2 separate regions of the Homo sapiens genome follow, and region 1 is reported to be linked to region 2. Evidence: microRNA targets listed by miRTarBase, many of them from high-throughput screens and not tested one by one. Region 2 holds a microRNA gene; the other region holds the end of a gene's coding sequence.

The links. Region 2 holds the annotated microRNA hsa-miR-6771-5p (CUCGGGAGGGCAUGGGCCAGGC, at 9,193-9,214, shown strand). A microRNA usually pairs through its seed, bases 2 to 8, with sites in the 3' UTR of a target mRNA and lowers its output. Matches are read on the target gene's strand: a 7mer-m8 pairs with bases 2 to 8, a 7mer-A1 pairs with bases 2 to 7 and ends in A, and an 8mer does both.
Region 1: miRTarBase lists TFIP11 as a target of hsa-miR-6771-5p. Seed matches in the 3' UTR shown: 7mer-A1 at 9,396-9,402.

Annotation. Positions count from the first base shown.
Region 1 is chr22:26,482,195-26,492,509 of GRCh38, forward strand. TFIP11 (tuftelin interacting protein 11) reads right to left here. Exons shown (of 15, transcript NM_012143.4): 15 at 9,046-10,174. The coding sequence ends at 9,819. SRRD (SRR1 domain containing) reads left to right here and starts at 1,683. Exons shown (of 7, transcript NM_001013694.3): 1 at 1,683-1,905; 2 at 3,829-3,869; 3 at 5,835-6,094; 4 at 6,196-6,294; 5 at 7,850-8,004; 6 at 8,831-8,876; 7 at 9,269-10,315. The coding sequence starts at 1,697. The coding sequence ends at 9,478. HPS4 (HPS4 biogenesis of lysosomal organelles complex 3 subunit 2) reads right to left here and starts at 1,589. Exons shown (of 14, transcript NM_022081.6): 1 at 1,480-1,589; 2 at 1-46. RefSeq lists an enhancer at 1,637-1,756 and a silencer at 1,777-1,866.
Region 2 is chr16:50,283,429-50,300,596 of GRCh38, forward strand. It overlaps MIR6771 (microRNA 6771), which reads left to right and starts at 9,188; the gene lies at 9,188-9,247. ADCY7 (adenylate cyclase 7) reads left to right here. Exons shown (of 26, transcript NM_001114.5): 2 at 4,484-4,922; 3 at 7,029-7,232; 4 at 8,308-8,469; 5 at 9,248-9,397; 6 at 9,926-10,074; 7 at 11,212-11,323; 8 at 15,476-15,603. The coding sequence starts at 4,752. RefSeq lists an enhancer at 506-1,007.

The DNA of each region.
Region 1 (10,315 bases), not on the chromosome of region 2:
TATTAAACGTTTTGAAGTTTCCAGTTCAAACATCAGTGCCTTGGCTCTGAAATAAACACAAGGAATAGATATTTCAGCAACTCGTGAGAGAGCATGTGACCCAGCAGGATTAAACGAATGGTATATTTCAAAAGAGCTTTCTGTGAGGGTGACAATCATGCTTCAAAATCAAAGAGGGAGGCTTGCAGAGACTTCAGAGTAAGGGCTTTAGTTTCTCGAACAGTTAAGGGAAACACACCACAAGCTTCACGGAAGATAAAATCAAATGACAGGGTGAAAATGCTCTAGGTGTGGACAGCTATACAAATAAACCAGTTGCTGTGGTAATAATGGAACCCAAATTAAGGAACTGTCATCTTGACAGTCCAAAAGTAACCTGAACATGCAGAATTCCAGAGCAGGGCAAATTTCTAAAAAATGAAGAGAACTTTATCAAATGGCTTTCAAACTTCCACAAGAGAAAGACAGCTCAGTGTATCACGGAATTTCAGAGTCGGAAGGAACCCTGGCATCGTTTACTCTACTCTCCTGCACTCTTTTCCAAAAATTACCTTGGCTGTCTCTGCTTTACACCCTCCAGAGATGCGTGGTTCACTATGTTACATTTCTCCTTCCAACAAACTAAAATCTGCGTTCCAGATTTTACATCTGCCTCCCACTCGCTAGTCTGGATAACGCTCTGCAGGAAAACACAAAACAAGGTCTAATTCTTCCATGTGACAACCTCTTGGTCACTTCAAAACTATTGTCTAATTCTTACTGTCACTTTCTCCAAGCTTAATGCTTTAGCAACATGGTCTCAAATGTTTGCTCACCATTCTGCAATCTGTGGGTACACAATACAGTTTGTTAAAAGTCTCTAGAGACGACCCCCATTGAATATTTGACGGCCTGTAAAATCTCTATCTCTTCTCAGCTCTAGATATTTTGGATTGGGCCTCCACAGGACCACACTCATTGTATTCTATGGAGCATATTTGGGTGCCTGTGGAGGGGGTATCTCTGTTACTGGAACCAAGGACAGCAGCCTAAAACTCCCCATCCCTTGTTCCCAGAGGACTGGGCCCTACACTACCGAGGTCCTCTCTTATCTCTGAAAGGTCCAGAAGAGACCAATAATGGCCCTGGAGTAGGAAGAGACGTCGGAACATGAGCAGAAAAGGATCTGGTAGCCTGGGAAGTAATAGTAACAACGCGGGGCTGGGGCTGGTGATACTGCTGTGGGAAGGGGCCTCAGTGGGGCAGCAGGGCTGGAAAACGGACGCTAATGGCTGGAAAAGGGCCAGGAAGCTGCTGGGCGCAGCCCCCGGGGCGCAGGCAGCGACTGGTAACAGCACTAGGGCTGTGCGGTGTCTGGCCCCAGCTCTACGGGACTGGGAAATGGTGGGCGAACGCCTAAGGATTAGGCGGGGTCGGGTCACGCTCTAAGCTGGGGGCCCGCCCCTCGGTATCCCCGCGCTCCGAGCGCCGCCCACCCACCGGAGTAGCCAGGCATCCCAGTGCTCGGGGTTCGGGACTCTGGACCAGAAATGTGGGCAGCAGCTGGGTACCTGCGACTTCTGCCCCGTACCTGCGCGCGCGGCAGAGAGGCCTTAGGTCACGCGCCGCCCCGCCTACCTCCCCCTCCAGCTCCTGGCAAGCCGGCGCGCGGCGATGACGTGCCGAGTGCGCCGCACGCCGCTGACGTCAGAGACCAATGGCTGCGGCCGCAGCTGCGGCGCTGGAATCCTGGCAGGCGGCGGCTCCGCGGAAGAGGCGCTCCGCGGCTCGACGGCCGCGGCGGAGGGAGGCGGCGCCCCGGGGGAGAGAGGCGGCGCCCCGGGGGAGAGAGGCGGCGCCCCGGGGCCCCGAGGCGGAGTTCGAGTCTGACAGCGGAGTCGTGCTTCGTCGCATCTGGGAGGCTGAGTGAGTGCAGGCTCGGCCCTGATGGAATCTTTGCGCCCATGGGCAATTCTGAGCCACAGTCTCCCCATCTGTAGAGTGGAGATATAATGCACACCCTTTAAGGAGTTATTGTGAAGAGTTAACGTAGGTAACGAGCTCATTAAAGATGTGGATTATAGTAAGCGCTCAGTTAAAGGTCGTCTTTCCTTTTATTACGGTTACAGCTGCGTGACCTTGGACAATTTATAATCTCTGTGCCTCAGTTTTCTCATCTGTGAGATGGGGATGAAAATAGTACATACGTAGGTTTGTTTTGAGGATTCAATGAATTAGTAAACGGAAACCATTTTCTGGCACGTGGTAAGCACTGTGCCAGTGTTTGCTATTAATATTATGCCGATGTTGATATTATTGGTGGTGGTGACACGAGGGAAGCAACATGAACACGTGACTGCTATCATCAGGCAGCTGCTATGTGCCTGACATTAGCTTAATCATTCTACACACTTTATGTTAAACATTGCAGGCATACTAGGACCCTGGTAGCTCACTGATTCTCAAAGAGACAAAGAAAATGTGTGGAACCAGATTTCAAACCCAGGTCTTTGTGACAAAAACCAGTGCTTCCAGCTTTCCATTATGCTTGTTGCTTATCCCAGCCCAGATTCTCACATACCTTGCTCTGTACCTTAGAAAGTACATAGAGAGTGCCTAATACAGAGGAAACACTCAATAAATGTTACTTATTATTGTTATTTAGTATTATTATCTTTATTCGCAGTTTTGTTTAGGCTCAATAAATAACAGCTTTAGTTAGCACTTAAGATCAGCATCCGAAGGGCCGTCACAAGGGGAGAAATTAGATTAATTTTGTGTGCTCCTCTCCCCTAGAATTAGGGTCAAGAGGCAGTAATGTCCCAGAGTTTACCTCTGAAGAGAAAGTTGCTGACCATTTGGCTCAGCCTGAATAAAAAGCACCTGCGATTATTTTTAAGCTCTCAGAGGATGCCAGTGAGAGTGAATGTGCCTAGGGGTTTGGAAAACTCAAGGCATTTTTCATATCCCTTGACACTGTCACGATCTCCTCAACTGCTTCAGTATTCCCCAGGAGCTCCTTGCTTCTCCCAACACCCAAGTGTGGTGCAATCACCATCGCTCTGAGTAGAGATTGAGCCAGCATTTTACACGCATATCTGTGTACGCATTTACCAGTTCATAAAGCATTCCTGTGTACATCAGAACTCTCTACCCTCTGTGAGAAACGTGCAGCAGCCTCTGGGCCGACTTTCAATTCTCTGTACTCCTTTCTGAACCCCATAATCACTGTCTCTGGCTGTGGCTTGTCAGTTTAAATCCAGTTCATTTTAATTCACTGTTGACTTTCTTTTGCTCTGGGTCTGTAAAACCAGTTGACTTGAATAAAGAAAGCCCAGACACTTGGTTTTGTCTCTTTACTTTCCCCTTAAAACTATTTATAATAACAAATACCATTTGTTGAGTACCTGCTATGTGCCAGACACTGGGCTAAGAATGTTAACCCATTTTATGCCTCTAAACTCCTCCGTGTTGGGAATGATTTTTATCCCCATTTTAGAGATGAGGAAACTAAAGCTCAGAAAGGCTAATTCTGAGCACTTAACAACCATTTATTGAGCTGCAATTCTATGCTAGGCTCTGTTGTAGACTGAGAATAGACCCAGATCTCTCTCTGGGAATCAAGGACCTCCTCCAGCATACTCTCTCCTGCAGTCTCTGAGCCCCAGCAGTATGTGCTCTGGCTCTGGACATATTCAACATATATCCCCCTCCTATCACTTGGTAAGGGTGGGCCCTGCATTGCAGGGCACCTCATTCTGTAAGCATTCAGGTCATGATCAGGAAAGTTACTGTTGGGGCAGCCCTGAGATGGGTGGGACATGACTGTGCCATTTTTTTTCTCAACAGGAAGGACCTGTTTATCTCTGATTTCTGGAGTTCAGCACTAGGTGGGTACCACTTGGCCAATGGTAGGGATTGTGGGGCAGAAAAGAGAATCAGTCCTCATTTGAGGACATTTTGCTTCACAGAGGGATAACTTGCTGGGTTCTAACGCCGCCCGCCCCTTACAGCTGTATGTCTTTTGGCACTTAATTCTGATCCTCAGTTTCTTTATCTGTGAAATGGAGATAATGTGTATATCCTATAGTTTTGAGAATTGAAGCTGTTTAGTTAAATGCTTGCCTGCTGTATACAAGGCAATAAATGTTGTCATTATTATTGCTGAAATTTATATTTATCCTGTTCCTTTTCCATGATATTACAATGTAGCCTTTTCCTCGTGCAGTGATAATCTCTTCCTAAACATAGTGTGTGGGTGGCGACATAATATTTATGCATGGAGTGGACATACCATAGGTATCATTTTTATTGTGGGACATTTAGTTTTCTTCTGTTGTTTTTCAGTTATTATTTTAGGACAGTGTCTTACTCTTCGCCTAGGCTGGAGTACAATGATGCAATCATAGTTCACTGCAACCTGTACCTCCTGAGCTCAAGTGATCCTCCCACCTACAGCTTCCCAAAGCGCTGGGATTATAGGCATGAGCCACCACAACCAGCCTTTTTAAGTTATTATACATAATTTTGCAATGAGTAACTTTATGCATAAAGCTTTTACCAAACTTAGGATGATCTTCTTAGGATATATTCCCAGAAGTAGAATTAAATGAAAGGCGGTGACCAACTTGATATCTATTGTCAAGTTATCCAGAAAATTTTCACCAATTCTTTTATCAAAATTGACCTGAAGAGCCAGTTTTTCCTGGCTTGGGGTCTTGTTTAAAGATGTCTTTGCTGCTTTTTTTTTTTTTTTTTTTTCTTTTGAGACGGAGTCTCACTGTGTCACCCAGGCTGGAGTGTAGGGGTGTGATCTCTGCTCACTGCAATTTCCACCTCCTGGGTTCAAACAATCCTCCTGCCTCAGTCTCCTGAGTAGCTGGGACTACAGGTGTGTGCCACTACCCCTGGCTAATTTTTGTATTTTTGTAGAGATGGGGTTTCACCATGTTGGCCAGACTGGTCTCGAACTCCTGACCTCAAGTGATCTGCCCACCTCGGTCTCCCAAGGTACTGGGATTACAGGTGTGAGCCACCATGCCTGGCCCTTTGCTGGTATCTTAAGTGAAAAGTTGGTATCTTATTGGAATGCACGGCTTTTTTTGTTTTGCTAAATTCAGTACCAGTACAATAAAAGGAGAGACAAGAGAACCTACCTCTACATGAGAAGACTTAAACAGAGTATAACTTTATTTTATTTTTTTGAGATGGAGTCTTGCTCTGTTGCCCAGGCTGGAATGCAGCGGTGTGATCTCGGCTAACTGCAACCTCCACCTCCCTGGTTCAAGTGATTCTTCTGCTTCAGCCTCCCAAGTAGCTGGGACTACAGCTGTGCGCCAGTACGCCTGACTAATTTTTTGTATTTTTAGTAGAGATGGGGTTTTGCCATGTTGGCCAGGCTGGTCTTGAATTCCTGACCTCAGGCGATCCACTCACCTAGGCCTCCCAAAGTGCTAGGATTACAGGCGTGAGCACCTGGTTTGTTACAACTTTAAAAGTACGCATTTCAGAGCATAGTCTACATTTACTAGGAGGGTCTTGTTAAATTAGAATGAGTTCACATTAGAGTTTTAGATGGAAACTGCCCTTGAGTGAAACCCAATTTCTGCTTGCAACATGCTCTTGGGTTTTGGGAGTCCAGGGGCCGGGACAGTTTGTCAATTGGTGGTGAATGTGACTGTATGTCCAGGCATGTTTGGGAATGAGGCTGGCAGCTTCTCTCTCTCTCTGAAGAATTGAAACCTTTTACTGCCCTGATCTCTTTCTCCCCAAATATGTGAACTTCTTTTGTGGATGATTTGGTTCACAGGGTCAGAACATGCCCTCTAACTGCATTTGGGGGCCTGCTCTTTCAGAAACCATCAATAGATGTCTCACAAAACATCTGGAACAACTGAAGGCCCCTGTGGGGACTCTTTCAGACATCTTTGGAAACCTGCATCTTGACTCATTGCCAGAGGAGTCAGATGTGGCCACTGATTCTATCCCAAGAGAGATCTTGGTCACAGGAACCTGCCATTTGAAGTGTGTGTGTTACGGCATTGGGAACTTTGCCACCTGCATCGTAGCTAGAAACCAGCTAACGTTTTTGCTGCTTTTGTTGGAAAAGTGCCAGGTACATTTTTGGATTCATTTTCATCTCCTCCTCCTCTGGTCCTATACATGGGTGCACACAGATGTTTGGGTTGAAGTAAACAACTCATTCTTCCCTTCTAGATTCCCAGAAGTCACTGTTGGGTATATGACCCTCTGTTTAGCCAACTTGAAATTGAAGTCCTTAACACCCTTGGTGTGACTGTTCTCAGTGAGAACGAGGTAAGTGGTTTAAAGGGGAGCAGACAGAACTGTAAAAATCCTGACCAGACTCACCCCAGGCCCTGCCTGTGGACACCAGCATTCTTTGCAGTGGCAGCCATTCCTCTCTTACCGCCTGCTCACTTTTGTAGTGCCTGAACGATGTAACCAGCCAATCAGTTACCTACATTTTGGCTTGTGTTGTGCCCATCAGAAAAAAATTACACAGATAGCATGAACCAGAACATGTTAGGTCTGCACCACTTTTTTGAGAATTATTTGTCTGGAAATTATGCTAACTTGGTATTTGCTGTTGCTACTGAAACATAAAAGTCTAGGTGCCTCAAGTGAGGTCTTTGTGGTTGGATTTTATCCTGTCCCAGGGAGGTAATAAAAGGGGATGCAGCATTCCTCTTTGATGCTATAACCCAGTCAAACCCATAGCACCTGGCTGTGAGTTGTGGATTAATTCTCTGCCCATGTTTGCACCCCCCAAAATAGCTGGGATTTGACATTTCTGAGACCTGTGGAATAAAGAAATGCATCCCTAAAGCACAGGGCCAAAGCCAGTATGAGCAAATCCCTCCGATTTCGGTTTTGTATTGTCTTGGGGATTAGAATCTTTTGATTCCTGTGTGTGTGCTGAAACTGCCATCTTATTGCTTATTATGTATGAAAATTTGGCTCAGTTGAGAGAAGAGTCATTCCCTGATATTGGCAAGGTCCTAAAACACTGTCACTCAGTTCAGATCATCTTTCTGGGTGCCTGTTCTGTGCTAGGCAGGGAGCTTTGGGGAGACCAAGAAAAATGGGAGCCAGTCCCTGTGTTCAGGGAGCCCATGGTCAACAAGTGAATGAGGAATGAAATACTGAGGCAGAACCTTGTACTACGACAGGTGTTCGGAGGGATGGAGGAAGGATTCCTGGGTCTGAGCTGGGCTTTGAAGGTCTACCAGGAGTTTGCTAGTGGGACAGAACCAGGATTGAAGGTAGCTGTGCAGTGCTGGCTGTTCAGGAAACCACTGCCAGTTTGTTATTAACACAAGGGAAGCTGCAAGGAGAGGAGAGGCAGGCCAGAGGTGGGCAAGGGTCAGACAAAGGGCCTTATGTTCCCTGCTGGAGTTTGGCCAGAGAGCAGTGGTTCTCAGGAGGGGTGATTGTGCCTCAGGGACATTGGAAGAGGACTTAGTTATGCAGATCTGCAGGAAGTGACATAGGAAGTGTGGATTACTGAACACAGGGGAAATACATGGGGTAAGTAACATCACTATCCCTCCTGTTCTTGCCGTCATAGACCCAGGAAGCCCCTCCATCAGTGCAGGGCTTTGTGTTCATGAGAACACAATGTGTACATTTGTTAAGTAAACATGAGTTCTTTCGGGACATCATGATTTCCTGACTCTTTAGTCCTGTAACTATAGATTTCATATACGAGTGTAACTGTTCCACAAAATGAGCTTTTTTCCTTTTGATCCTTTAGTTTGTCTCATGATTATCCCCATCCTTACCTCTCCCTCACCTTGCTGTAAAGAATAGGTTGTGGGCATGTTTACACCTGTGAATATCGTATCCCCAGGAAGGGAAACGGAGTATTCGCGGGGAGCCTACCATCTTTTACATGCTCCATTGTGGGACGGCCTTGTACAACAATCTTTTATGGAGTAACTGGTCAGTAGATGCCCTTTCTAAGATGGTCATCATTGGGAACAGTTTCAAAGGACTTGAGGAGAGGTAAGTCTGAGAATGCTGAGATTCTGTCAGGCCCTGAGGTGAAGCCCATACCTCAGATTGACCCACATGCAGAAAACATTTCCTTGACGATTCCATACTGGGGAAATGCTTTTCCACAGGGAACTGGATGAAGGCTTAAAGACAGATGTCAAATCCTGATTCGAACTATGAAGCAAGTTAAGGAGTCTTTTTGCCACGAATTCCTCCCTTCCATTATGATACACAGAAATGGTTTTGAAAACAGGGAAAAGCTATTTGATTCCTCTGCCTACAGCTCCACGTCCTCATTCTGTTTCACGTGCTTAGGAGTCTGCTCAGTCATTTCTCTTGATGAAATGGGCACAATTACTGGAATATTTGCTTTTTTTTTTTTTTTTTTTTTTGAGATGGAGTCTCACTCTGTCCCCCCGGCTGGAGTGCAGTGGTATGATCTCAGCTCACTGCAACCTCTGTCTCCTGGGTTCAAGCGATACTCCTACCTCAGCCTAATGAGTAGCTGGGATTACAGATGCACACCAGGACGCCCGGCTGATTTTTTTATTTTTAGTAGAGATGGGGTTTTACCATGTTGGCCATGCTGGTCTTGAACTCCTGACCTCAAATGATCCGCCCGCCTCAGTCTCCTGAAGTGCTGGGATTACCTGCGCCTGGCCCACATTTTCAACTATTTAACTGGTTTACTCCACATCTTGAGTTTTTTCCTGAATTCTTACTATGCTTCAATCATCTTGCCCTTCTATGTGTCTTAAAAGTTGAATGAAACTATCCTCATACCTCCTAATCATGGTGTTTTTTTTTTGTTTTTTTGGTTTTTTTTAATTTCTAGGTTGTTGGCAAGGATTCTGCAGAAAAATTATCCCTACATTGCAAAGGTATCTATCTGAATAAAGGGGCTGGGATGGAAAAGGGTGTGAAACTGTGAAGAATTCTATCTTTCTTTACAGGCGTAGGAGGAAACTCATGGGCTAAGTGGCGCTAGTGTACTGTCAGCTCTCTCCATGGGTCTGTGTTCCAGAAAGCTATGACTCTTTAATGCATCTCTTAGTTTTTTCCTTATTTCCTTTATTCTTAGTATCACAGTCCATGATATCCACTGTCCTTGGGGCGCCCAATTCATTGTGCAAAAGCATTTAAATCAAAATACCCTATTTGTTATTTTTTTAAAAAGTAAAGTGGGGATGACAAGTAAAGTGGAAATTTATCCCAGAAGAGTGGGGATTACTGTGACTATCTGAAGTTTTTATACTTGAATTTTTCTGCTCAGATTTTAAAAGGACTGGAGGAGCTTGAGTTTCCTCAGACTTCACAATACATGGACATATTTAATGATACCTCTGTCCACTGGTTCCCTGTGCAAAAGCTAGAACAGCTCTCCATAGATATTTGGGAGTTTCGGGAAGAACCAGATTATCAGGACTGTGAGGACCTTGAAATCATCAGGAACAAGAGAGAAGATCCTTCTGCTACTGACTGAACTCGTTGTGAGGTACTCAGTGTTGGCTGAGGTAGAAGCTGCCACCAGAGACTAAAGGGAAGGCTGCTATGGAGGAACTACAGAGAACTCCTTTGCCAGGAAAGAACATCAACTTGGCTGTCCTGTTTTGAGGACGATACCCCACATGAGGACTTGGTATAAAGATTCCTGCCCTACGTGGCATTGTCCCATTTTACATCCTTCCCTCATGACCTGGCCTGATGTGGAGTAGCTCCTGAGTAAAGAAGTTACCCTTTTGAAGGTGATCTAAAAATACTGTTTATTTACAGTACATCCCTCTTAGGGGCAAGTCTCTGACTGGTTCTGGACCTGCCACAGTTCACTTGGCCATGTCGATCAGGCTCTGCAGTGAGGTGGGCACCCACGTCTTCTCGCCCTGGACAAAGACCACTCCCCGGTCGATGTAGATCACAATGCGGCCAAAGGTGTAGAGCTGCTTCCCTTCGTGTCGCTTCCCAATGACGGGCATGAAGACAATGTTGTGCTCCTCAGCCTTGGTCTCAATGAGGTCCTTAAAGTTCATGGGCACAGAGCTAGCGGCCACGCCAATGCCCCTCTGAGCCATGTTCTCAGCCTCCCGCCTCTCCTGCATGGCCTCGTACTGGAAGTCCTTCCTCCGCTCCGTGTGGGTGAGATAGGCAATGTTCTCCCGTGCTCCTGGCTGCATGTAGGCACCTAAGATACAGGAGGACAGGGCGGTGAGGAGAGGTGTTTCCAGGTGTATGGAAGTTGACACTGTGGCTTGGCCCAGGTCTTGGGTGTGCCAGAGTGCTTGTGACTCACTGAAGGGCAGCTCTGCCTCAAAGATACAACTTT
Region 2 (17,168 bases):
CCTCTTTCCCTGGGTCAGCAGAAGTCCAAAGAGAGCCTTCACTTCCCAGGCCTGTGGCATTAGGGCTTGAGAGGGACTTTGCTGATTGGCCACACTGGGGTCATGTGGCCCATGAACCAGGGTACTGAGGGTCGGGAGAAGGGACATTGCACAGCAGAAGCATGAAATACCCTCCTCCCATGTGGACACCTTCCCCACAGGGGAGTCCCCTCTTCTTTAAAATGGGGCTGCTCACCCTGCTCTACCACTGGGGTGGTCGTGAGGTGAGAGTAAGTAAGGGACCCCCTGGGACTGCAGTCTCCTCAGGAAGAGGGGACGTGATACCTCTGCTCTTGGTGGCTTTGGAGTTCAGACAGGACCCATGCGGTGTGGGTGAGGGAGTGACAGGGAGGCAGGGCTTGCCTTGAGCTAAGGGAGGACTCAGGGCCAGAAAAAGTGCCCAGTGATGGAGGAGACTGCCCTGAGAGGTGGTGAGCCCCCCCGTCATGGAGGTGTGCAAGCTAACAGCAGGGTCATTCAATCCGGGAGCCCTGGATTGGATGTGTCTCAGACATGGCAGAAGGATTCCTTTATCCAGGGCCTTGTGGGGAGGCCCTCCCTGTTGCCAACTGAGTCGAGGGCTGGTGGAAGAACTGGTGATTGGACAGGAGGCCTTGAAAACTTCCCGGGCAGGGGGTGCCTCTGGGTCTGGCTTTGGCGGGGTGGCTCCTAGGGAGGAGCTGGCCTGGGGACATGCCACTGGTGGTGGGTTCCTGGGCCCCCTCTGGAGATGTGATCAGTGAGTTCATTCCCCCCAGGCCTCACGGTGCCCGGCTTGTTCCAGGAGCTGGCCAAGGTCCCTGGATGGGCTGAAGTCCTTGTGCCCATGTTGTCCACTGTCCACCTGCGCCTGCCTGCCGTTGCCCAGAAAGTGGCCTAATGAGTTCCTTGAGAGGCGTGTTTACCAGGCCTGTGTTCCCACGGGCCCTTGGGACTCTCTCAGCTGGTTCCTCCCTTTCCTCGTGGTGGCCCAGCCTGGCTTTGTGTGCCTGGAGCGGGTGTGTCCACACACTCTCACACTTGCACTTTCATGCACGTGTCTGGCCGCCTCAGCTCTGGTCTGGGGGCTTTGCCTGGGAGATGGAGCAGTTGTGGGGAGTGGCCTCAGCCCTCTGGTGTTTGGAGCTTCTCAGCCTGGCTGTCCTGGTGCACTGGTGTTTGGCAGCAGGCCAGGGGTCAGGTGGGTTTGCTGTTTGTGTGCTGTGGCATCTGGCTCAGTCCCCCGGGATGTCAGTGGGCAAGCCTGGGCTGAGGAGCCCTGGTTTGGGAGCTGGCAGACCTGGGTTTGCATCCCAGCCTATCTGTCCACCAGCTCCAGCAGTGTGATCTTAGGCAACCACTCTGCCTCTCTGGGCTCAGTTCTGCATCTGTGAGACGGTGGTGCCACCTTGGCCTTTGCCGGTTGTGAAGATGAGAGTGAATGTGTGTGCAGGTGCCGGGGGTGACAGGAACTGCTGCTGTTATTACTGCAAAGGGCTATTTTGGGGTGGGGGGTGCTGAATTGAATGTATCTCAGGCAGGGACCTTATCTTGTTTGGCAACCCCCACAGCACAGGGTTGGATGTATATGGTTAGCACACAGTAAATGCCTCTTGTGGAATACAGACTGATTAGTTTAGATTTAGAGGTTGTAAACTAGTGGGCTGCAAATATTGAAAAATTTGAAATCAGCTGCCAACATTTAAAAATCATCATTTCACGTAGAAATCAGATTTGTAGCCTGTCTGAGCACTTTGGGCACTTTGACAGCTCTTGGCCACATCCCTGAAGGGTTGCCCCTCGTTGAACAGGTGCCAAGGCCTGTAGACACCTGCCCAGGCACTGAAGGGGATGGGGCCCCCAGCAAATGACCCCTTCCTCCTTCCCCAAATATGTGGTTTTACCATTTTGTTCCTGGTGTGTGGTGATGGAATAGGAACTTCCAGAGGAAATAGAGCCTGAGGTGGCTCCTGGAATTGAGGTGGCCCCAGGGATCTCATACTAGCAGGTGCTGGTTGGGGACTTGGGGACCCTGGATATCCTGCTTTTTGCCTTTGGGGGCTGGGGGCTCACCTGGCCATCTTCCCTCCGCTGGACCAGCTGTCCTTTGAAGCTTCTGCTGGCGGCTGGCCATTTGTGCCCTGTGACTGCTCTGAGCTGTCCCGTGTCTCACAGCCTCCCTGCCCTCTGCCTCTGGCCCTGTCCTGGTTCCAATCTGAGGCAGGCCTGGAGGACACTGGGGGCGTGGACTCTTGGTCCAGGGTTGCCCCCTTCATGCAAGGTTCCTGCTGGGAATATGGCAGCTGTCCCCAAGTCCCCATTGCTGTGTGAGGGATTGCACAATTTTGGTAATTTTCCTACCTTTGGAGACTGATGGGGATCCCTGGGGAGAGAGAGCCCAGACTAGCACACAGGAGATATAAGGGCTGGCAGGCGTAGGTGTGATTCACAAGCCTTTTTGGAATCAATGAATATGCTAAGGAATGAATGGTGCTGGGGAAAGAAGGAACCCATATGGGCTGAGCATGGCAAGTGTGGGGTCAGCTCACAGTGTTGTCACAAAGGGGCCACTGTGTCCCTCTCTGAGACTCAGCTCCCTTTTCTGTGAAGCACGGCTTGCAGACATCTGAAATTTGTATCAGTGGGCTATTTAAAAAAATAAACAAGATTTTTGCTGGGTACAGTGCCTGAAAGCTTAACACTTCGGAGGCTGAGGAGGGTAGATTGCTTGAGCTTAGGAGTTCAAGACTAGCCTGGGCAACATGGCAAAACCCCATCTCTACAAAAAATACATGGCCTACTGCAGCCTAAGTCTCCCCAGGCTCAGGTAATTCTCCCACCTTAGCCTCCTGCATAGCTGAGGTCCCAGCTACGCAGGAGTCTGAGGTGGGAGGATTGCCTGAGCCCTGGGAGGTTGAGGCTGCAGCGGGCTATGATCACACCACTTCACTCCAGCCTGGGTGACAGAGTGAGACCCCATCTCAAAAAAAAAAAAAAAAAGAGAGAAAGAAAATGCAGTTTTATGTGGAGCTTACTGTAACACAGATGCAGGGGGCTACCCTGGCTGAAGCAGGCATGGGGGCCTGAGCCTATGCCCCCCCACCTTCCCTTCCCATTGGGGGCCTGATGCATGTCCCCAAATCTCAGGGCTCCTAGGATCACAGCTTGGAACCCTCTGTGCCTGGAGGCATGAGACTCACTGGAAAATGAAGTGAATGTGGTGATTGCACCAGGACCATGGGGACAGAGCAGAGCCTGGAAACAGACACCATCTGTGTGTGATCACCTGACTTATGACAGAGGTGGCTCCACTGAAATTCAGAGAGAGGATGGCCGGTTCACTGAACACTGCTGGGATAATTCAATATCCATATGGAAAAAAGAAGTGAACCTTGATCCCTACCTCACACCATACCCAGAGTGAATCGAAATGGATCAGAGACCTTTGTGTGAAAGCAAAACAGTGAAACATGCAGAGCAGAGCTGGCCTGTAGAAGCTTCTGTGATGATAGACATTCTCTGTTTATCTGTGCTGTCCAGTACAGCAGCTGCATGTAGCCATTGGGTATTTGATTTTTTTTTTTTTTTGAGATGGAGTCTCACTCTGTTGCCCAGGCTGGATGCAATGGCACGATCTCAGCTTACTGCAAAATTTGCCTCCCAGGTTCAAGCCATTCTCCTGCCTCAGCTTCCCGAGTAGCTGGGATTACAGGCACACGTCACCATGTCCGGCTAATTTTTGTATTTTTAGTGGAGGGGGGTTTTACCACGTGGGCCAGGCTGGTCTCGAACTCCTGACCTCAGGTGATCTGCCTGCCTCGACCTCTCAAAGTGCTGGGATTACAGGCATGAGCCACCATGCCTGGCTGGCTGTTGAGTATTTGAAATGTGGCTAGTGTGACTGAGGGACTGAATTTCTAATTTTATTTTAAATTAATTTAAATTTAATTTAAAATAGTGGCTGGGCATGGTGGCTCATGCCTGTTATCCCAGCACTTTGGGAGGCTGAGGCAGGAGGATTGCTTGAGCCCACGAGTTCAAAACCACCCTGGGCAGCAGGGGGAGACGCCCATCTCTACAAAAGAGAATTTAAAAATTAGCTGCACACCTGTAGTCCCAGCTACGTAGGAGGCTGAGGTGGGAGAATCACTTGAGCCCGGGAGTTTGAGGCTGCAGTGAGCTATGATCGTGCCACTGCACTCCAGCCTGGGCAACAGAGTGAGGCCCTGTCTTGAAAAAAAAAAAAAAAAGCAGCCACATGTGGCTAGTGGCTACTATCTTGGACAGTGCAGTCCTAGAAGACACAGGGGACTAGCTTTACGACAACAGGACATAAAAGTTAGGTTAGGGTTAAGATGGATAAATCAGACTTGGTGCTGTGAGGCCTGGGCCCCGCTCTCCCTGATGCTAGCCCTCCCCTGACTTGGACCATTAGGTCAAGTTCCTGTCTGCTTCGTCTCCGCAGAGCTGAGGAACTGCGTGTGGAGTCAGCCCAGTCTGGATGCACAGGAGGATGCTGGCGGCACAGTGAGTGAGGCCTGGTGCCAGAGCTGTGCGGACCCCTTGTTGGCCATGGAGCAGCAGGCCCAGAGGCCCTCTCCCCAGCCCTGCTTGCCTGCCTCGGAGAGGACAGAGGCCTAGGCCCACGGGGGAGGGTGTTGGCAGACAGATGCCCTCCAGGCCCTGGGGCCTCCTTAACGGCCCCTTAACGACACGCGTGCCAAGGGTGGAGGATGCCAGCCAAGGGGCGCTACTTCCTCAACGAGGGCGAGGAGGGCCCTGACCAAGATGCGCTCTACGAGAAGTACCAGCTCACCAGCCAGCATGGGCCGCTGCTGCTCACGCTCCTGCTGGTGGCCGCCACTGCCTGCGTGGCCCTCATCATCATTGCCTTCAGCCAGGGGGTGAGTGAGGGCAGCCCCTGGGCTTCACGTCTCGGCCCCAACCTTGGCCAAGCTGCTATCTTCTCTTAGCCTCTTCTGTAAAATGCTTATCTTCTGTAAAATGCTATGCTTTTTTGTTTGTTTTGTTTTGTTTTTGGGTTTTTTTGAGACAGAGTCTCACTCTGTCACCCAGGCTGGAGTACAGTGGCATGATCTCGGCTCACTGCAACCTCCATCTCCTGGGCTCAAGCAATTCTCCTGCCTCAGCCTTCCGAGTAGCTAGGATGACAGGTGCATGCCACCATGCCCAGCTAATTTTTGTATTTTTAGTAGAGATGGGCTTTCACCATGTTGGCCAGGCTGGTCTCGAACTCCCAACCTCAGGTGATCCACCTGCTTCGGCCCCCCAAAGTGCTGGGATTATAGACGTGAGCCACCATGCCCGGCCAATGCTCTGTCTTTTACAGCACATTTAGACTGGTAGAAGACAAGTTTCTAATTTAAAAAAATTTTTTTTGAGACTGGGCCTTGTTTTGTTGCCCAGGTTGGCCTTGAACTCCTGGGTTCAAGTAATCATCCTGGCTTATCCTCCTGAGTAGCTGGGAGTACAAGCATGCACGACCATGCCCAGCCTCTCTAACTTTAATTCAGTTTTGAAGTCTGGAGTGGTTTCAGACATTACATTAACTTGTCCAGATAAACTACTCTCATTTTTCTCCATGATGAAATTCGATTCTACTGAAGACCTGGGTCAGGGATGGCCTGTGTATCACTGCCCTCACTTCCTGTACCCATGCAGACATCATTAATCAATCCCTACATTCCACACTGAGCCTGTCTACATTCTCAGAATCCTCCTTTTGTTTTTTTTTTGTTTGTTTGTTTTTGTAGAGACATGGCCTCGCTATGTTGCCCAGGCTGGTCTTGAACTCCTGGCCTCAAGTAATCCTCCTGCCTTGGCCTCCCAAAGTGTTGGGATTACAGGTGTGAACCACTGTGCCCGGCCTCAGAATCCTTTTTAACACAGCTCTCCAGGCTGGCACCACCTATGTCATTTCCGGCCCAGGCACTTGCCTTGGTACAGCCACTAGCTGTGTTTAGCTATTGAGCATTTAAAAAGTGGGTAATGTGACTGAGGAACTGCATTTTTCAAAAAAAAGAGTTTTGCTCTTATTGCCCAGGCTGGAGTGCAATGGCACCAACTTGGCTCGCTGCAGCCTCCACCTCCTAGGTTCAAGTGATTCTCCTGCCTCAGCCTCCCGAGTAGCTGGGATTACAGGCCCATGCCACCACGCCTGGCTAATTTTTGTATTTTTAGTAAAGACAGGGTTTCACCATGTTGGCCAGGCTGGTCTCAAATTCCTGACCTCAGCTGATCCACCTGCCTCGGCCTCCCAAAGTGCTGGGATTATAGGCGTGAGCCACCATGCCCAGCCCATTTTCTTTTTAGTGAATGTAAATTTGATTAGCTGAGTTCTAGAAGAACACTCAGAAACTCCAGGGTGTTTATGTGAGTGAAGTGGCCAGGACCTAGCAGCTGCCAGTGCAGCCTGGATCCATGTGGCTACCAACCACAGGATGCTTGCTACTGTGTGCCAGCCCCCAGATCAGGCCTCTGCCCCCACGGACCTCCCGGATGCTGTGCCCGTCCTGTCCCACCTCTGTGCCATTGCCTCAGCTCCTCCCCTGTGGGATGACTTTTCCTGGTATCCCTCACCAGCCTCTGCTCACTCACTGAGGGCCAGGCGCAGTGTCCTCTTTGGGCGGCTTTACAAGGCTCTGCCTGTGAATGAGTCCTGCCCTGTGCTTGTGGTATCACCTGCGGCTGTGCACAGAGCACCGTGGGAACCCAGAGAGGAGGCAGAGGCAGATGGAGAGTGATGGCATCATGGGCGGGGCTGTGGGTGATGCTCTGGTTCCCGAGATGATGGGAAGGGGGTGGTTGAGGCAGCCTTGGCAGAGGTGACAAAGGCCAGAAGGTGAGTGGGAACCAGGTGTGGGAGGGTGCATCCACACCCTTCACGTGGAGGAAGCTGTAAGTGAGGCAGCCGGCCCGGCAGGCTTTCTGGAGGAGGTGGCTCTGCACTGGGGAAAGCCGAGGCATTCCTGTCTGTTTGCTCCACCCAGGACCCCTCCAGACACCAGGCCATTCTGGGCATGGCGTTCCTGGTGCTGGCGGTGTTTGCGGCCCTCTCTGTGCTGATGTACGTCGAGTGTCTCCTGCGGCGCTGGCTCAGGGCCTTGGCGCTGCTCACCTGGGCCTGCTTGGTGGCGCTGGGCTATGTGCTGGTGTTCGACGCATGGACAAAGGCGGCCTGTGCGTGGGAGCAGGTAACAGGAACTCTGGACTCCCTGCCAGCTGCGCCTTCAGCAGCTCCCATCCCCGTGGTTGGTGGGCATGCCACAGGCCCTTCGTGCCCCACGCTTGGCTGTGTGTCTAGGATGGCCCCAGGCTGGTTTTGTCCCTGTGAGTTCTCTGCATTGACAGGGCTGAGGTGGGGAGAGCATCCACTCGGACGCTGGGCTGCAGCACTTTTGGGTGGCTCCAGTTTGGTTGGAGATGACAGAACTTCAGCTCAAAGAGGCAAAAAGGCACAAACTGGTTCCTGTGTCAGGAAAGGCCAAGGGGTCAGTGCTGGGCTCCAGTGGGTAACTGGAACTGGGGCCTCTGGACAGCTTCGGCCCCGGGCACGCTGTCCCCAGGTGGGGGCAGAGAAGTTCACAGCGGCTCCAGGCTGCCCACCCCAGTTGAGAGAGAGGGCCCTTTCTCAACCAGCTCGACCTGCAGGCTTGAGCCACACTGGCCTGGCTGTGGTCATGGGCCCAGTCCCAGAGAGGCTGTCACCAAGCGGTAGCACACTCTGACCAGTGGGCCTGGGTCCTATGACAGCTCCTGTGGCTGGGGCAGGGTGGGGTGAGGCCCAAGGAAACCATGTGGACTGAAGGGGAGGGAGAGGGCAGCACTCCCAGAGGGGTGGACGCAGGACCAGCCGGTGGGGATGGTGGGGCAGCTCTGGGGGTGGAGGGAGGGCGGGTGGGGCCGCATTGCTGGAGGCAGCTGGTGAGAGGGTGCCTCAGCCTCCCGGTAATCATTTCTGCTGAGCGAGAACCACGTGGCAGGGGCACCAGGTGGGGGCTCCCTGGATCACGCGGGGCATGGAGCCTCCCACCTAGGGTGGCCACAGGCAGTGGATCAGCACAGGAAACCATGAACCTTGTGGCCGGGCCCACCCTAGAAACACATTATGGCTTTTCTTGTTCCCTTGTATGTCTGCCCACGCAGGGGGTGGCGAGGGAGCCAACCTAAGGATACGCACTGGGTGGGCTGCTGTGGTGCAGGGTTCCGGGGGCTGTACGGCCTGGGGCAGCATCTTGGGGCACCGGGCTCACCAGGCTGCATCCACAGGTGCCCTTCTTCCTGTTCATTGTCTTCGTGGTGTACACACTACTGCCCTTCAGCATGCGGGGCGCTGTCGCCGTTGGGGCCGTCTCCACTGCCTCCCACCTCCTGGTGCTCGGTTCTTTGATGGGAGGCTTCACGACACCCAGTGTCCGGGTGGGGCTGCAGGTGAGGGATGGGCTAAGGCCTCTGGGGGAGGTTTTGTGGTCTGGGTCTAAGGGCAGATGGGGGGGCCCCCTCTGGGTGAATCAGACCCGAAGGCCCCGGAGCCGTGTTTGCAGACAGCCCGCTCCAAGGCCGGGCCCTCTCCACGTCTGCTCGGAAGCTGGGCTCCAGGCGTGGCCCTGCCCTCTGGCCTTTGCTTTGCTGGCCTAGGGCTCCCCTGTGGCTCAGCCCTCAGGGTCGTGACCTCAGGCCTTGCCTCCCGGTTCAGGGACACTGTCGTGGGGTGAGTCCCATTGCCGAAGTTTCCCCTCGAAGGCCCTGTCCTGGCGGGGCTTGGGGGAGTACCCCAGGGCACTGCCTTGTGTCTTTGTGTTGAATGAGTGAATCTTCTGTTCATAATTATTGGGTGTTTAGAGAAGTGTTTTCCCTCTGACCAGGCCTGGTGTCCTCTCCAGGCAGAGGCTGGCCCTCCACACAGCCAGCTGGGCGCTGTGCCCTCTGGGACTGCCCTTAGCACGCATGCCCCTCGGGCCCTGGGCTCTGTGAGGTGGTCTCTTCTGCCTCCCTGGGTGTCCTGGTCTTGCAGTCCTAGTGACTCACTAGGAGACTAGCTCCTGTCTGGGCCTCAGTTTCCCTGTCTGCCCCAGGAAGAGTGCCATTCTCAGTGGGTTGAAGGTCAGGGAATGGGAAGAGGTGCCATCACTAGTCCGCCTAGGGGTCTGGTGCCTCGGGAGGGCATGGGCCAGGCCACATAATGAGCCAAACCCCTGTCTACCCGCAGCTGCTGGCCAACGCAGTCATCTTCCTGTGTGGGAACCTGACAGGCGCCTTCCACAAGCACCAAATGCAGGATGCATCCCGGGACCTCTTCACCTACACTGTGAAGTGCATCCAGATCCGCCGGAAGCTGCGCATCGAGAAGCGCCAGCAGGTGGGACCCGGCCCCCACTCCTCACCCTGTACACCCCTGTCCTCTTCCTCTTTCTGTTGGACATGAGACACTCATGCTGCCATGTGCATGAGGTGCATGGCCAGACACCCATGCAGGTCTCACCTCGGTGAGTCCTGGGCTCCAGCAGGGTAACCATAGCCTGCTGACCCTTGACTCTGCCTTCCTCTGTGTGGTTTCAGTCCTGGGCACGCAGTCCCCAGGTGGCGGCAGAGAAGGCCGTAGTGGCTCCAGGCTGCTCACCCATCAGCTTAGCCTCCCCAGCTGAAAGAGCCCTTTCTCAGTCACCCTGAGTCCCGGGGGCTGCTGGGTACATGGGAGGTAGATGCTCAGTTGGGTTGGTGGAGGACAAGAGCAGAGATGGGGACATTGTGGGCAGGGCAGGCAGGCAGGGAGGATGGGGGCCAAGGAGGCCAGGTCTGGGACCTGATGCTACCCTGCCTGTCCCCCGCTGGTCCCTCCGCCGGTCGCTTTGCTGGTCCCTCTGCTGGTCTGCCCACCCACACCCAGGAGAACCTGCTGCTGTCAGTGCTTCCGGCCCACATCTCCATGGGCATGAAGCTGGCCATCATCGAACGGCTCAAGGAGCATGGTGACCGTCGCTGCATGCCTGACAACAACTTCCACAGCCTCTACGTCAAGAGGCACCAGAATGTCAGGTGGGCGGTGAGACGTGTGATTAGCATATCCCGGGGACTGGGCCCACCGTTCCACCGGCCCCCAGGCGGCCTCCCCGCCCTATCTGGAGGCTCAGACCCCTGCCCATATAGGGATTGGGAGAGGGCCCCATGGTTCCAGGTCAATCTGGGGCCCTCCCTGGGTCTCAGAACCCCCACTTGTGGGCAGGATCAGATCAGGGCTCTTAAATTAGAGAATTTAGATTGGTATTGAAAGATCTAGCACACCCCCAAAACTGTAAAACTGTGTGAGCAAACATAGCTTTTGTGAAGGAAGGGGTCCTTTCAGATGGTTCTCAAGGGAGCACAGGACCCCCAGAATGAGGTAAAGCCCCCCGGCCTTGGTGCCCAAGAGTGCCCCGGTTCTGACACCTGTCTTTGGCTGATTTGCAGGGAACCACAAAATTTTACTTGAATGCACTGACCTGAGTTTGTCAAGTGTCGATGTGGGTGCTGGGTGCCGTTGAGTGTAGATGTGGGTCCCAGGAGACCCCCTGGGTCCTCTGCCTGCAGCGCCAGCATTACATCCAAGGCTGGCCCGCTGCCTTTTCTCTGGGCTGTGGATGGTCCATGAGCTTAAGGACTTTGGAGCAGGGAGAACTGGTGCAGATGCCAGCTCTTGGCTTCCCAGCAAGTCTCAATGTCCTGGAGCCTCAGTTTGTGCATCTGTAGAACGGGAGTTCGGCAAGGGCTGTGTGAGGACTCGATGCCTGTAAAGTGCTGGGTGTGGAGGTTGGCTTGAGGGAGCATGGAGCTGCCTCTCACCAGGGAGTTCTGAAGTCTGTGCTGTGGTGAACATTGGATGGGAAAGGGGAAGGCTCCGGGCTGCCTGCAGGAGTGCCCTTCGGCTGTCTGCAGTGATAGGGCCTGGGGTGGGGCCGAGGGCTCCTGTAGGCTCTGAATTTTGCTCCCTTCTGCTTTAACGTGAAGCCCCTGGAACTTTAATCTGTCTCTATGGCTGGGCGCGACTCTCCCATCCCTATGGAGGCTGAGGAAGGACGGGGGTGAATGGGCTCAGGCCTGGCAGGCTCCTGGGGCTCCAGACAGTCCTGCGTGCTCCTGCTGCTGCTGTCTAGGAGCCTGGCTCTGACACTCCCTCCCACCCTGCCCCATCCCCAGCATCCTCTATGCGGACATCGTGGGCTTCACGCAGCTGGCCAGCGACTGTTCTCCCAAGGAGCTGGTGGTGGTGCTGAATGAGCTCTTTGGCAAGTTCGACCAGATCGCCAAGGTGAGCCCGCTGGCCTACAATGGGCAAAGCCAGGCCCCTCCCCTGCCTATTACACCCCAGGGGTGTCCTGTGTTCAGTGCCCTGCTGGAATTGGGATGGGGAGGCGTGGCTGAATTTTAGCATCCAGCCAGCAAACACAAGCGCCCCATGGTAAAGGTGGGGGTGAGTGGTGGCCACGGCAGCCAGGATCCTGTGCCCCCAGAGTGACAGGCCAGTGGGGAGACTGACAGTGCACACTGGGCGATATACTGGGGCTCTGGAGCTCAGATGGGGGCTCAGGAGGAGGAGATGGCTCCATCCTCACTGGCAAGGCTAGCAGCCTCCACTCACCTGGTAGCTCAGGAGGACTGTGGAATGCCCAGCCTCACCCAGAAGCTGCTTTTCACAGGATCTGAGGTGAATCATGTGCACATTAAACTTTTACGTTTTGTTTGTTTGTTTTTGTGAGATGGAGTCTCATTCTGTCATGAAGGCTGGAGTGCAGTGGTGCCATCACTGCTCACTGCAGCCTCGACCTGCCAGGCTCAAGTGATTCTCATGCCTCAGCCTCCTGAGTAGCTGGGACTACAGGCATGCACCACCACGCCTGGCTAATTTTTTTTTTTTTTTTTTTTTTTTTTTTTTGTAGCAATGGGGTTTCGCCATGTAGGCCAGGCTGGTCTCGAACTCCTGACCTCAAGTGATCATCCCCTCTTGGCCTCCCAAGTGCTGGGATTACAGCCGTGGGCCACCACTCCTGGCCCACCTTAAAGTCTGAGATACTTGAAAAAATATCTGAGGAGGAAAGGGAACAGTGTTCTTAGCAGGGGGAACAGCATAGACAAAGCCTGGAGTAGAAAGAAAGCCCCGTGTGTCCATGGGGTGAACGTGCTCAGTGTGCGTGTGAGGTGTGAGGGGGACAAGGGCACAAGGTCTGACATGCAAGGACATGAGGGCTGAGGCGAGGACCAGGATGCTGAGGAGCTCGACACGTGCCAGGCAGGGAGGGGGTAAGGCAAGCAACATTTCCATTAATGGACCAAATGGTCCTGAGAGAGGGTAAGTGCCAGGCCCTGAGTCTGGGTGGGGCCTTGGGCCTACATGGTATGTGCTTTGAAGAAGAGAAGTGTGGGGGCCAGGAAGCCTGGGGAGCACCTAGCCCAGCCTCAGGTGATCAGGGCAGGCTTCCTGGAAGTGGTGGCCATTAAATAGAGACTGAAGTGTAAGATTTAAGGTGGTGGCTCCCTATCCTGGCTGTACATGCAAATCACATGGAAAGCTTAAATAAAACACCAGTGCCCATGTCCACACCCATCAGAGTTCTGTTTTGTTTTGTTTTTGAGACAGAGTCTTGCTCTGTCACCTAGCGTGAAGTGCAATGGCATAATCATGGCTCACAGCAGCCTCAACCTGCCTGGGCTCAGGCGTCCTCCCACTTCAGCCTCCCGAGCAGCTGTGACTACAGGTGTGCACCACAACCCCAGGCTAATTTTTTTGTATTTTGTGGAGATGGGGTTTTGCTACATTGTCTAGGCTGGTCTTGAATTCCTACGCTCAAGTGATCCACCCACCTCAGCCTCCCAAAGTGCTAGGATTACAGGCATGCACCATCATGCCCTGCCCCATCAGAATTTTTTTTTTTTTTTTGAGACGGAGTCTTGCTCTGTTGCCCAGGCTGGAGTGCAGTGGTGTGATCTCTGCTCACTGCAAGCTCCGCCTCCCGGGTTCACACCATTCTGCCTCACCCTCCTGAGTAGCTGGGACTACAGGCGCCTGCCACCACGCCTGGCTAATTTTTTGTATTTTTAGTAGAGACGGGGTTTCACCATGTTAGCCAGGATGGTCTTGATTTCCTGACCTTGTGATCCGCCTGCCTCGACCTCTCAAAGTGCTGGGATTACAGGTGTGAGCCACTGCGCCTGGCCAGAATTTGTAAGAGCCCCGCAGGTGTCTCTGTGGGCAGAGAATCAATGGTCTAGAACTTGATGGGAGGCAAGTTATGACTTCACACTGGGAAGAATTTTTCATGATCAGAGCTACTCAATCCCAGGAGGGACTGGAAGTGGGCTCCCTGTTGCAGGGGGTAACCAAGCTTCTACAGGATTGCACTGGTCAGGGATGCTCTGGAAAACTGTCCCATCCTGGGGATTGTGGACTGAGTGACTCAGAGGGCCTGTCTAGCCTGGAACCTTCCTTCAGGATCTGCATGGCTTCTGAACCAGCAGCTGGGAGCCCCAGAGGTTGGGCCTCATGTGAGGCAGGGGCCCTGGGCTCGGGCCACAGCTGGCCCTTTCCTTACCATAAAGCCCACACAGAGGGTCCCTTGCCCTTGGACACAGTCTTCCCTCTCCAGCAGGCCCAGGAGGCGTGGCCCTATTGCACAGATGGGGAAAGGGAGGCCATGGCAGGTGCCAGCTTCCCAGTCAGAGCATCTAATCTCTGGGCAGAGTTGGGCAGGGCTGGTCCCAGCCTTTTCTCCTATCAACAATCAGATTCCAGAAGTGTAAGCTCTTTCCAAGAGCCAGGGCCTCCTCTCTCAGAGGCATACAAGTCACACCTCCGCACAAGACCCAGCTCCCCAACTCCAAGTGTCAGAGACACAGGGGACTGTCAGCCGGTGGAGCAGCCGGGGGAATGTGGCCTCTCCTACATCCCCGAGAGCTGGGCTGGGTCCATGGGCAGTCCTGTGCCTGGTCCGAGAGGAGATCAGGGTAGCTGGAGCCTAGTATCCAGGTCTGCCAAGATTGCCTGCTTTCTAGGAAAGCCACTGTCCTCTTGTCCTTGCAGTCACTCAGAACTCACTCAGCATGTGCCAGATGGGGCCCAGCAGGAAACATCTGGCACACGCTGAAACTGAGTAATTGGCGGAGGGCACAGGCCAGGGATGGTTCCCAGGCTGGGCAGGTGCAGGGGACCTGGAGGCAGGGCTGGTGCTGTGTCTGGGGCCTGGGTCTGTGATGGCTGATGGGCACAGAGTAGGGACGAGGACAGGATAGGCTCGAGTCCTGGAGACAGATGGTGTTCCAGGAGCAGGCCTAGCCCTCGTGAGCCTGCAGGACAGAGCCCTCTTAGCTCCCTCCTGGCCAGAAGCCAGAGCACAGGGCCACCTGCTGGGGCGTCCAGTCCGAGGGTCAGCTGAGTGGGGTAGAGGGTGGGGAGGGGAGAGCAGAGGCAGATGGCGCTCCTTCTTCAGCTCCCCTAAAGCCCCACCCATGAGGCCTCGGTGCATGTGGCCACCCTTGCTGAGGGCTTAAGGAGGGTCTGGTGACGCAGCAGTGCCTCAGATGAACCTCAGAGGGCTCTCGGGGGTCCCCTTCTCTCCCTGGGCCTTTTCCTATGAGTCCCCACCCTCGCCGCTCTCCTACTCTGCCCTCCCCATTCCCTCTTTCCTCTCTGCATTGATATCTTTCCTCCCCACCCCTAAGCCCTGTCAGCACAGCCACTGCTTGGGTGACCTTGAAACCTGCTGATCCCTTGGTGTGTACACCTGTGACCTCTGTCCTCACCCCCCACTCCTGCAGCCTCCTGGCTACCTCGCAGTCTCTTCCCCAGCTTTGTGGCCCCAGGGCTCCTGTGAGTCCTTGAGTACTCTTCCTGCAGAGACTGGCATGGCCGGCTCTCTCGGTTCCTCGGGGTCTTAGCTCAAATGTTTCTGATTCCAACTCTGAGAGGTCTTCGCTGGCCTCCTGGGAACATCACTTCCCTCCTGTGCCTTGGTTTTCTCCTTAGCCCCCATCACAGCTGGGCACACTGTTTTGTTTTTGTCTTTCTAGTTTAGTGCCCACCCCTCCTGCCTACGTGCAAGCTCCGTGGCTGCAGAGATTTGCATCTATTTTGTTCACTGCTGTGTCCCCTTGCCTGGCCTGGGGCCGGGTACTCAGTAGGCACTCAAACATTACCTGGGCAAATGAAACCAAGGCAGACCCCTCCCCGAGGCCCTTAGGAACACTCGTGTTCACCTCTGGTGCTTGCCTGGGGGTTCCTCCTGGGGAGGCCCCCATGTCGCTAAGCCTTTTGCCAGGCCCAGAAGTGGCTCCTGGTGACTGGACCCCAGGAGGCAAGCCCCCAGCCAGGAGAGAGCCGGGTGCACCCTGGAGGGTGGGGGGAGGCGGCTGTCGTGAGAGGTCCCAGCCCCACATCTTCCAGTGACCAGGCCCTTCCCTCACCCTGCAGGCCAACGAGTGCATGCGAATCAAGATCCTCGGCGACTGCTACTACTGTGTATCGGGCCTGCCCGTGTCGCTGCCTACCCACGCCCGGAACTGCGTGAAGATGGGGCTGGACATGTGCCAGGCCATCAAGTAGGTCCTGGGCGGGCCCAGGCCCTGGGTCCTGCCCTGTGGCGGACCCTCCTGGGCATGGTAGGGGATGTGTCATTCTCATGTCACAGATGGGGAAACTGAGGCTCGGGGGGTTGGGGGTGAAAGCAGCTTGCCTGGACCACCCAGCCTGCTGGAGGATTCAGACTTCATCTGTTTGCGTCCCTCCCTGTGGTGCTGCCTGTGACTCTGAGTCCCAGAAAGCATCTCCGGAGCTCAGAGCTGGGTGATGTGAGGTCAGGGCGGTGGGCTCCGCTCCCCTCAAGGATGGGGTCTTAGCAACAGCAGGAGGCTTCAGGGTAGGCAGCCGGGGGACCTTTCCGACCCAGGGGTCGACTCCAAGGCTCCATCTGCTTCCTGCTCCCCAGTGAAGATCCTGGAGTCAGGCTTGGTCCTGAGGCTGCGGGGAGACCCCCCGCTCCCCTCTAGGTCCCCTGTGGCTCTGAGCAGCTGGGGTCTGTGGGAGGAATTTGCCGAGAGGGCTGTATGGGGAGAGGGCCAGGCAGGCCCAGCCAGGCTGACCAGTGTGGGGCAGAGCAGGGCCCGGTGGGGCTGCCCGTCCTGGATATCAGGCCGTGTTCCAGCCTGTCCTTCTCCTGAAGTCCTGCCATAGGTGGCTGGTGTTGCCAGAAAGAAGCCTGGGCAGAGCTGGAGGGGCCTGGCCTGCACCACTGCCTGTGTGACCTCAGGCTGGCCCCTGCCCTGTAACAGGCGGAGGTTGTACAGGCCCTCGTGCACCTCTGGTTCCGACCCTGGAAGGCTTGGTCAGTGCCCAGCCTTGTTGGTGGACACGTGGTGCCGCTTGTCATGGGGACTCAGGCTCTGTTCCTGTCTTGGGCGTCCCCTGTGCCCCAAGGAAGCTCTCCCGTGGGGCTCTGCTCCTGTGCTCAGTGGTGCTAACAACTCCCAGGGCCCCTGCTTCCCAGGGATTGGGGGGGCATAGAAGGTGCCCATGGTCTGGGCCCCTGTGTTCCTTGTCTATGCTAGGTTTTGGGTGGTTCCTGGACCCCCTCTGTAGACGCCAGTAAACTTTATTTATTTATTTATTTATTTGAGATGGAGTCTCGCTGTGTTGCCCAGAGCGTATCTCGGTTCACCACAACCTCTGCCTCCTGGGTTCAAGCGATTCTCCTGTCTCAGCCTCCCAAGTAGCTGGGACTACAGGCGCCTGCTACCATGCCCGGCTAATTTTTATATTTTTAGTAGAGTCAGGGTTTTGCCATATTGGCCAGGGTGGTCTCAAAACTCCTGACCTCAGGTGATCTGCCTGCCTCAGCCTCCCACAGTGCTGGGATTACAGGCATGAGCCACCACGCCCGGCCCCCAGTAAACTTTTAAAACCCAGCCGGTGCTGCTGGGCAGGGAAAACACCCAGTGATGGTATTTTAGGTCCATCAACATGGGCTGTAGTGACTAGTTGGAATTCCTCCTCCCTCCTACCTAGTCCTTGAGGTCAGCTGTGGCCACACCTACTTGTATGCTCCTGGGGATGGGGCACTCAGCTCTTCCTGAAGAGGCAGCCCCATCAGGCTGAGAACATTCTCTCC